2 separate regions of the Homo sapiens genome follow, and region 2 is linked to region 1. Evidence: fine-mapped expression QTL. A gene starts in region 1. The other region holds a variant in brackets. All regions are shown on one strand. Distances are between the middles of the regions.

Region 1 (5,377 bases):
TGAAGCTAACATTTTCAAAACAGCATGTCTCAGATTAAGACACGAATACTCTCCAGTTAACACAAGAAAACTGAGAGATTAAATAACTTGCTCAAGGTTATGCAGCATGATACAAAACAAGAGAGAGAGAAACAGTGCTGTCTGCAGCTATGACAGGTGTTCAGCAAGGGCCCTGTCCTCACTATTCCCAGAACCAGGACAGGAGCAGAGTGTTGCAGTCAGTCATTCACAGGACATAGTTTAGATTTCAACTAATCAAGAGACAGACTAACATAAACTATGTCTTCTGCTTTTGCCCACTAGGAGAAAGATTAGGCTGCCTTTCCGCTCTCCCACAGTGTGTTCTTGGGCAGACACTGGCTGGCTGGCAAGATATGGCCTCATGCAGACTAAACCTGAACTCTGAACCTCTTGGGGCCAATAAAGAGGGAAAATCAGACCTGGCAACTCTTGGATCACATGTTCTACAAGATTCCCAACAGGCTTAAACTCTGGTTTAACCTAAACATGCCCTGGGCCTTTGCACATTGCAACACCCTGAGTTTTCTCATTCGTCTTTGGCAAGTTTTTACTGCTATGATAGAGATGATGGGAACTACTGGGGAGTAAGAGGAAAGAAGAGGTCTCCTGTGTGCAAAGAACACAGAACAAAGAACTAACTATAGGGTTAGTGGTTTAGAGAGGTAGGTGGCCAGAGACAGGAAGGAAAGTCCCAGTATGGGACACGGAGGTACAGAAATAAAGACACTCTGCTGATGGGACTTCCTGATAAAATTCTATTTGCATGATGTATGGAGAATTCCCCTGGATGGCCTGAGAGAGCCCCAGGGAAGACAGGAAAAACCTGACCTAGCAACAGACCAGATTCTGAGAACAGATCTGTAGTTTTCTAAACACCCTACATTGATCCAAACGCTATGGTCTCGCATCTCTCCAGAAAGAGGGCGGCCAAAAGCAAGAGCTAGCTGTTGTTTCACTACAACTATAACATGCCAAGGCACAAACAGCAGATTGTGGGACCCCCCCCCCTTTTTTTTTGGAGACGGAGTCTCGCTCTGTCGCCCAGGCTGGAGTGCAGTGACACGATCTCGGCTCACTGCAACCTCCACCTCCTGGGTTCAAGTGATTCTTCTGCCTCAGCCTCCTGAGTAGCTGGGACTACAGGCATGTGCTACCGCGCCCAGCTAATTTTTTTTTTTTTTTTTTGTATTTTTAGTAGAGACGAGATTTCACCATATTGGCCAGGCTGGTCTCAAAACTCCTGACATGACGATCCACCTGCCTTGGCGGATCGGTGGCCTGGCCACCGCGCCAGGCCAAGTTCAGGTTTTTAAAAGGGGTCCCACATCACTGCCTGTAATCCCAGCACTTTGGGAGGCCGAGGCGGGCAGATCACGAGGTCAGGAGATCGAGACCATCCTGGCTAACACGGTGAAACCCCGTCTCTACTAAAAAATACAAAAAATTAGCCAGGCGTGGTGGCAGGCGCCTGTAGTCCCAGCTACTCGGGAGGTTGAGGCAGGAGAATGGCGTGAACCCGCGAGGCGGAGCTTGCAGTGAGCCGAGATCGCGCCACTGCACTCCAGCCTGGGCGACAGAGCGAGACTCCGTCTCAAAATAAAAATAAAAATAAAAATAAAAACCTGAACTCACTTTGGTCACACACTGCAGTGGATCGCATTGACTCCTACAAAAGGCAATGAGACCACTGCAGGACTAACTGTTCCAAAAAGATTCCCTCAAAATCTGTCCTGGGGCCTATAATTCCTCAAGGTGTGAAAGGCTTTGGGGGCCCTCCTTAAAATGCTAATAGCTACTAACACCTTAGAAAATTTGCCAGCCAGCTAAACGTAAACCTTTCAGGAACTTCCAGGCAGACACCATGGGGGTAATGTGGAAGGGAAGCCTGGCTCGGCTACTCGAGATGATCACTTGGGTCGGCTTTAAGGAGCTTTCTGGCTGGCCCTAACCAACACTGTCGCGCCGGGAGCAGGGATCCCCTGGCGCCCTTCAGTCAGGGCGCTGGCCCACCCTGGGGCAGCAACGCACTCCCTTACCTCCGTGGTTCAGTCAGAGCTAGGAAGGTCCCTTTGTGCTTCCTGAGATCAACATCGCTCCCTTTTCCTGGGAAGGCAAAGAAAATGAGTTAGGGAAGCGTCTATCCCGCTCCTACCTCCTCGCCAGGCTCCGGGACGCTATGCGCTATCAGCATTGAGGTGAAGAGGACTAGGTGCCCGGGGCGATCCAGGCTCGTGTCCTCCCGCTGGAGTTTGAGGTTTGCCCTTCCCTCATCACCCTCACCCTCGTTCTTTCTCGGTTTCCCGCTTCCCTCTACGCGGCGGAGACCACCACCTTACCGCTCGCACTTAAGATCTCAGACCCACGCCGGAGGCCGGCTCGCTCCGCCCCTCCCCGCCCCCTTGTCCCCGCCCCGGCTCAGACGCCGCTCCCCGGTGCCTCTCGGCACCGGCTCACGCTCTCCAGGCCCACCTGCCCGGTCTCCACACGTGGGTAGCCAGAGCCCGGCCGAGAGCCCTGGCCGGGAGCCCGCGGGGGCCCCGCCCCCTGCCCGCCCCCTGCCCGCCCCGCTCGCCGTGCCGCCATGTTTACTGAGGGCGGATGGAGGGGCCCGAGTTTCTGCGAAGCCGCGACCTCGGCGTCCGGACGCGGGGAACACCGGGCTGAGGGAGTCTGCAGTCGGCTCCGGGAAGCCGCGCGGCGACGGGGGAGGCCTTCACTAAAGGGGAAAAGGAAGAGGGGGTCGGCCAGTATCCCCGAAAGAGGGCTAGGGCGCATGAAGACCAGCGCAGAGCTCCACGAGCAGGAAAAGCCCCCAAGCAGCCCCAGGGCGACTGGACCGGGCCGCTTAGGCCACGCCCGGGGAAGAGGGCCTGACGCGCTGCGGGGCGGGGCCGCGGGGCCGGGTCGCGCGAGCAGCGGAGCACCAAGGGAACGGAAAATGGCGCCTCACGACCCGGGTAGTCTTACGACCCTGGTGCCCTGGGCTGCCGCCCTGCTCCTCGCTCTGGGCGTGGAAAGGGCTCTGGCGCTACCCGAGGTACAGAAGCAAGTTTGAGGTCGGGCTGAAGCAGGGTCGCTGGCCAGCCGTGCGTCGCGCTCGCCAGCGGCTCCCCCTTCTCCTCGGCGGGCCTGCGGTTCTGATTTCGTCCCTGACGCTTCCCGACCCTGCCCAGCCAGGTCCTGTTCCCAAGTACTCACGTCGTGCAGGCCTTCGGCGCCCCAGTCCTGCCGACTTTCAAAGACCTGTGAAACTTGATTTCGCCCCTTAATTTTAGAATAACTTTAAGTTCTTTCTACAGACGGGTCCTCTGCCTCTTGTGTAATCTCTCTACGCACGAACGCCATATATCGTGCGGTGGTAGGGCTGTACTTTTGTAATGCTTGATGAGTTCTTTACGTACCTGCGGTCGTTTTACACCGCGCCAAACTAGGGCTGTCAGATTGAGAAGTCTCTGCAGAAAGCATAATAAATAAGTTCGAATAGTGATCTTCAGAGATGAGGACCTTCCCTGTGCGATATCTGGTACTGAAAGTGTCGGGAGCTGATTCGGCGCAGGACTCTGGAGGAAGAGATGGCATCTCCTAGCCTAGCCTGTTACAAGGGTGGGACACGAGCCGTTTATCCATTTATCGGCCCCGTGTTAGAGGAATTCTGGAAACGTGTACTGGCAGTTAATTCTTGATCGCCGTTTGTTCTTTTCTTGGCTTTTCTTTCTGGAGTTCTAATGTTTCTTTCTCTTCTGCAGATATGCACCCAATGTCCAGGGAGCGTGCAAAATTTGTCAAAAGTGGCCTTTTATTGTAAAACGACACGAGAGCTAATGCTGCATGCCCGTTGCTGCCTGAATCAGAAGGGCACCATCTTGGGGTGAGGGGAAGACATCCCTAGATGCTGGATACAGGCCATTCCTTAGCCTGGCTGCTTTTATACCCTTATATTATTTAAAGAATCCACCTATTATGGTTTCAGCTGTAATCATCACGCAGATGTCTACCAAAACTAGATCTCTTTAGTGTCTTTTTTAACCTTTCCACACTCCAGGTACATACGGGTACCTCTAGCTTCCTATTAAGCATTTCCTACTGAGTGCACCCTAACTTCAAACTCAAAATGTTATGTTTTGCTTCCATTCTCTTCTTTCCTTCATCTACCTAAATACTTCTCTGTATTAAGCTTTTAGAAAACCAACATTTTCCATTATCACTCTCTTGCTTTAATACTATATTTAGTATTAAATTTTGTCTCAGGACAAAATTCAAACCATTAAGTACCATACTAGTCCCAACCCACTTTTCCAACATTATTTCCAATTACTTGTCCGCTCAAACCTCCATAATGGTCTGCACCAGCCAGATTTGCCTGCCCTCAAAGGCATTCCACCTTTGTTCAGGCCTCTCTCCATACCTGAAATTGCCTTCCTCTACCAAATTAGGAAATATCCATCCTTCAATTCCAACATCTTTTGTGAATATTTACTACTACTAAGTTCCAGAGTAATACCTTTTTTAAATTATTATTTATTTATTTTTTTGAGACGGAGTTTCACTCTTGTTGCCCAGGCTGGAATGCAATGGCATGATCTCGGCTCACCGCGCCCTCCACCTCCTGGGTTCAAGCGATTCAGTAATACCTTTTTTAAAAACTTCCTGTAATCTTTAGTGTCCACTCAAATATATTTATACACTGTCCTGTGGTTTCTTTTATATTGTAATTTAATGTTTACAGTGCTTTTATTTTTGGGCAGTGCTCTTGTTCCTCTAACTACATTGTAAGCCACTCAAAGGCCAAAATACTGTGTTACATATTTTTAACATTCTCCCAGTGTTTGCAGTTTGTAGGGACTCAGTAAATATTTGTAGAATAAAGGAATGGATAGCAGTAGATATTGAAGAAAAAAATAACGTGGCATGATCCTTAATGTCCAGCAGTTTACAACCAATCTGTGGTAGAAAATACATGTGGAAAAAAACTTTGATTTATGTGACTTTTTTTTTTTAATTTAAAGGCCCTCTGTGGATCTGAAAATCATAATATGAGATTCACTAATGTAGACAAGAAACACAGATTTCTCCCAATAGATGCATAACCGATTAGAACAGTGCTGGCGGATAGAACTTTCTGTGATTATGAAAATGTTCCGAGCCAGGCGCGGTGGCTCATGCCTGTAATCCCAGCACTTTGGGAGGCCCAGATGGGCGGATCACGAGGTCAGGAGTTCAAGACCAGCCTGACCAACATGGTGAAACCCCGTCTCTACTAAAAATACAAAAATTAGCCAGGCGTGGTGGCATGTGCCTATAATCTCAGCTACTCAGGAGGCTGAGGCAGGAGAATTGCTTGAACCCGGGAGATGGA
Region 2 (5,377 bases), 35 kb before region 1:
CATCTTAGATTCTGACCTCCTCAAATGCAATTTTCTATTTTCTCTCTTCAGCCACCCATTTCTATGGTCATGCCCTTAACCTTGTCAAAACCAATAATACACCATTCTCAGAATCTCTATTTTAAGCATTCTGATTGGATATTGTGATCCCTATGTCTTATCCTTCCATCTCAGTCTCATGCCTGCAGTCCAGTATTTCTTCAGTCTTCTTGAGACCTTTAATTCATTTGCTTCCTTCTGTCTTACTAACCATCTTCCCTCGTGTCCTTACTTCCTCTTTATTCATCCCAGATTCTATGTTCATTGTTGTAATTGCTCCTTTGCAAATATCCTTATCCCTTACCCCTCCTCTCCCACTGTTTTTGCGTTGCAACATCCCGACCCTGCACGGTCTTCCCACTCTACACTTCATCTGAACACTGCTGGAAATGAATACACGATTGTGTTCACTGGCCTGCCTCAAAATTCTCAACCAAAAATCTCAAATAGGCACTCAACACTCTGTGGCAATCTTCCCTGATATGTTTTCTTTCTTACATTCTAACACATTTATTTCTCGCCTTCTTTTTTCTCCTCAGAACCTCTCAGCTTGCCATCACCACGTACTTCATGACAAAAACAAGAGCAATCAGGCAGTAATCCCCTGTTTTCAGACAGGCTGCAGTGAGCTGTGGTCGCACAAGGCTGCAGTGAGCTATGGTGGCGCCAGGCTGCAGTGAGCTATGATTTCACCAAGGTGCAATGTGGCTGTTACCACAGCTACCCATTTCCCAGCTGGCGTGTCCAGGCTCACCATGGGTGATGCGCCCCTTCCCACCAGAGGCCTGTTCTTTTCTGGGGCCAGAATCCCACCCCCTCTTGCTCTTCCAAAGGGCCTCACTCCTAAAATTATTCCCTCTGCCTTCTGCATCCTCAGCTTCTCGCCCTCCACTGGATCATTTCTCTCACGTATATTAGCATGCAAACACTCTCTAGCATGGCATCTCCCATTAAACAAAACTCCTGACCCCACTTCCCCACCTTAACTACCACCACATTTCCCTGGCCTGCTGCATAGCAAAAAAATTTAAGTGCTCTCTATTATTGCTGTCTCCATTGTCTTTCCTCACTCACTCACTCCAATCAAGAGCCCATCTCCAGCTCACTCCTACAACAGCACTGGTAAGGTTATTGGTGGCCTCCCTTTTGCCAAAGCTGATGTCGATTTCTGTGGTCTTGTGTCGCTATGTTTTTGTGTTTTGGGCATCATTTGATTTCACTACTCCATCTTTTCTCTTCTTTCCTTTTTTTTTTTTTCTTTTGAGAGACAGGACCTTACTCTGTCGCCCAGGCTGGAGTGCAGTGGTGTGATCATAGCTCAGTACAGCCTGGCAGCTCACTCCTGGCCTCAAGCAATCCTTCCACTTTGGCCTCTGGCATTACTCCCAGCTCCATCCTTCTTGAAACACTTCTCTAGGTTTCCTAATCAACTCAGTCTTCTTCCTGGCTCCTTCTCCCCGTTCTACTTCTTTTTTTTGTTTGTCTTTGTTTTGAGATGGAGTTTCGCTCTTGTTGCCCAGGCTGGAGTGCAATGGTGCGATCTCGGCTCACTGAAACGTCCGCCTTCCGGGTTCAAGGGATTCTCCTGCCTCAGCGTCCCGAGTAGCTGGGATTACAGGCGTGTGCCACCACGCCTGGCTAATTTTGTGTTTTTAATAGAGATGGGGTTTCTCCATGTTGGTCAGGCTGGTCTCGAACTCCCGACCTCAGGTGATCCACCAGCCTTGGCCTCCAAAAGTGTTGTGACTACAGGCATGAGCCACCACACCCAGCCCTCCCTGTTCTACTTCTAAACCTAAAAATAGTGTGAAGAAAATCAGCAAGGCAAAAATCACTATCAGCATAATCAAAAGGCAAGTGTCAGACTGGACAACAGTATTTGAGCTCAGGTCATAAACATAGGGATAATCTCCCTAATATTTAAAGAGCTCCTAGAAATCATTAAGAAAAAGACCAAAACCCCATAGAAAAATGGAGAAAGAATATAAACAGACAGATCTCAGGAAGGGAATACAAATGGCCAGTTAGCAACACAAAGAGAGAGGCCAGCTCATTAATAATAAAGGGAAGTGTAGATTAAAGCTACACTGAAATACTGTCTCATAGCCAGGCACAGTGGCTCACACCTGTAATTCTCAGCACATTTGGAGGCTGAGACGGGTGGATCACTTGAGGTCAGGAGTTCAAGACCAGCCTGGCGACCACGACGAAACCCTGTCTTTACTAAAAATACAAAAATTAGCTGGGCACAGTGGCGCGCACCTGCAGCCCCAGCTACTTGGGAGGCTGAGGCAGGAGAATCACTTGAACCTGGGAGGTGGAGGTTGCAGTGAGTTGCGATCATGCCACCGAACTCCAGCCTGGGTGACAGAGTGAGACTCCTTCTAAAAACAAAACAAAACAAAACAAAACAAAAAAAACCCATCTCACCTATCATATGGATAAAAACTCAAAGTTTGACAACATGCTCTATGGGAAACAGTTCTTTCTCATATTTTGCTGTGACAGTAATGTGAAAAGAGATTTTAAATGGATAAGACGAAAAGTACAAAGCAGTGTGTATTTTATGCTACCAGATCATACATCATTTCTGTTTTATTTGCATAAGA[T/TAC]ACACACACACACACACACACACACACACACACACACAAAACAATAAAAAGCAGTTACTTGTTCTAGTGGAAACTGGAGCAGATGGGGGATAAGGTGAAAGTGAGTCTTGTTTTTTTTTTTTTTTTTTTGAGATGAGGTCTTACTATGTTGCCCAGGCTAGAGTGCAGTGGCATTATCACAGCTCACTGCAGCCTTGAACTCCTGGGCTCAAGCAGTCCTTCTGTCTCACCCTCCCAAGTAGCTGGGACTACAGGCGCCACACACCACCAAGAGAGTGAATCTTTCAAGTGTATGCCTTTTTAGGTTATTTGACTTGTAAACTATATGAAATGTATAATTTTTTTTAGTTTTTTAATTTTTTTTTTTTTTTTTTTTGAGACAGAGTCTCGTCCTGTCACCTAGGCTGGAGTGCAGTGATGCAATCTCGGCTCACTGCAACCTCTGCATCTCAGGTTCAAGCGATTCTCCTGACTCAGCCTCTTGAGTAGCTGGGACTACAGGCATGCACCACCATGCCCGGCTAATTTTTGTATTTTTAGTAGAGAGAGGGGTTCACCATGTTGGCCAGGCTGGTCTCAAACTCCTGACCTCAGGCGATCTGCCCACATCAGCCTTCCAAAGTGGTAGGATTACAGACATGAGCCACCACACCTGGCCAGTTTTTAAATTTTTTATCTTTATGAGACAGTCTCACTCTGTTGCACAGGCTGGAGTACAGTGGTGTGATCGCGGCTCACTGCAACCTCTGGCTCCTGGGCTCAAGTGATCCTCTCACCTCAGCCTCCTGTAGCCTCCCTCCTGTACCTGGGACTACAGGCACATGCCACCACACGCGGCTAATTTTTGTATTTTTTAGTAGAAACAGTGTTTCATCATGTTGCCCAGGCTGGCCTTGAACTCCTGGGCTCAGCAATCCGCCCGCCTCAGCTCCCCAAAGTGCTGAGATTACAGGCATGAACAACCGCACCTGGCCAATTTTTTTTTTGTTTTGTTTAATGAGAAACAAACAAATATGAGTTCAAAGAGTTTCCTGGGGAAGTTTTTCTGTACAATAGTTCAAAGAACACAGAGAAATGCGTTTCATCTTCAAAGGAAGTTAGGGCATTATTATAAGCAGGGTGTGTAGATCCTGAATTGGACTTTAGTCCTGTACCATTCGGAGGTGATCATGATGGCCTGGATGGATGTTTATGATGACAGGCACCAGCATCACCAAGCATGCATTGATCTATTTGAATACTTTCCACCAGATCCATGACTTGGCCATGTACTGATTCCGATTTTATCAGCACGTCAGCTAACACCGTTATCTGCTTTAATCACAACTTTTACCAGAAGCATTGGCATCAGTTGGACGCTTCTAGCTGCTAGGCAGAACATACTCAAACCAAATAGCTTACACAATAAGGACAGCCATCATTTCACATAAGATGATGTCTGGAGGCCAGGTGGTCCACGATTGGCTCAGAGCCTTGATGAAGTCATCACAGATCCAGGTCCACCGATGAATTTGTCTTTCTGCCTTGCTATCCTCAGCAGGTTGATGATGCTTTCACTTTGGGTTTCAAAATAGCTGTAGCAATTCCAGACAATATGTGAAGATATGACTTGATCCAGCAAAGGAGAACAGGAGAAAAGGGGGTGCTTCTTCTCATGCATCTGTTTTTATTGGAATAATATAGAAATAAAAACTTCCTGACGTAATTTTAAGACAAAAATATGCTATATAAGTAACTGTATTACTAATTTTTTTCTTCTTTTTTTGTTTTTTGAGACAGGGTATCCCTCTGTCACCCAGGTTGGAATGCAATAGTGTGATCTCAGCTCACTGCAGCCTCCACCTCCTGGGCTCAAGCAATCCTCCCATCTCAGCCTCCAGAGTAGCTGGGATTACAGGTGTGCGCCACTATGCCCAGCTGATTTTCAAATTTTTTTTTGTAGAAATGGAGTCTTGCTTGTTGCCCAGGCTGGTCTCAAACTCTTGATCTCAAGTTATCCACCCATCTCCACCTCTCAAAGTTCTGGGATTACAGGTGTGAGCTACCTGCCCGGCCTGTTTCTTAGTTCTAATAGTATTTTTGGTGTATTCTTTGGGATTTTCTATATACAAAATCATGTTGTATGCAAATGCAGGTGGTTTTACTTCTTCCTTTCCAATTTGGATGACTTCTATATATATTTTTCTTGCCTAATTGTTCTGGCTAGAACTGCCAGTACAAGGTTGAATAAAAGTGACAGCAATAGGCATCTTTGTTTTATTCCTGATCTTAGGGAGAAAACTTCAGTCTTTCATCATTAATTATAATAGTATTAACTGTGAGTTTTTCATAAGTGCCTTTCATCAGGTTGAGGAATGTCCCTTCTATTCTTAGTTTGTTGAGTGTTTTTATCATGAAAGGGTGTTGGATTTTGTAAAATGCTTTATCTGCATCTATTAAGATGATCATATGGTTTCACCCCTTCATTTCATTAATGTGGCATAGCACATTAATTGATTTGCATATGCTGAACCACAGTTGCAATCCTGGGATAAATCCCACTTAGTCATGGTGTAAAACCCTTTTTGTGTGCTGCTAGTGTTTTTTTGTTGTTTTTTGTTTTGTTTTGTTTGTTTTTAGAACCTGTGTTCAGCCAAGCTGCTAGTTTTTGTTTACTAATATTTTTGAATATTTTTGCACTGTATTCATAGGGGATGATGTTCTGTAGATTTCTTTTCTTGTGATGTCTT

Alleles and levels. Positions count from the first base shown, and alleles are read on the strand shown. Sizes are in standard deviations (SD) of each study's normalised expression.
As copies of T replace TAC in region 2, the expression in transverse colon of the gene that starts at base 2,632 in region 1 goes up (small effect, 0.37 SD a copy in CEDAR).

The links. PIP is the estimated chance that this variant, and not a neighbour inherited with it, causes the effect.
Region 2: its variant is fine-mapped to the expression of ATRAID in transverse colon (CEDAR, PIP 0.90).

What each region holds. Positions count from the first base shown.
Region 1 is chr2:27,209,410-27,214,786 of GRCh38, forward strand. It overlaps ATRAID (all-trans retinoic acid induced differentiation factor), which reads left to right and starts at 2,632. Exons shown (of 7, transcript NM_001170795.4): 1 at 2,632-3,058; 2 at 3,768-3,889. The coding sequence starts at 2,960. It overlaps SLC5A6 (solute carrier family 5 member 6), which reads right to left and starts at 2,859. Exons shown (of 17, transcript NM_021095.4): 1 at 2,611-2,859; 2 at 2,058-2,124. RefSeq lists enhancers at 702-761, 716-1,513 and silencers at 2,296-2,615, 2,806-3,055.
Region 2 is chr2:27,174,130-27,179,506 of GRCh38, forward strand. No RefSeq gene overlaps it. Among named protein-coding and RNA genes, the nearest start is that of TCF23, 28 kb to the left of the region's middle. The variant T/TAC (reference allele first, on the strand shown) is at 2,649.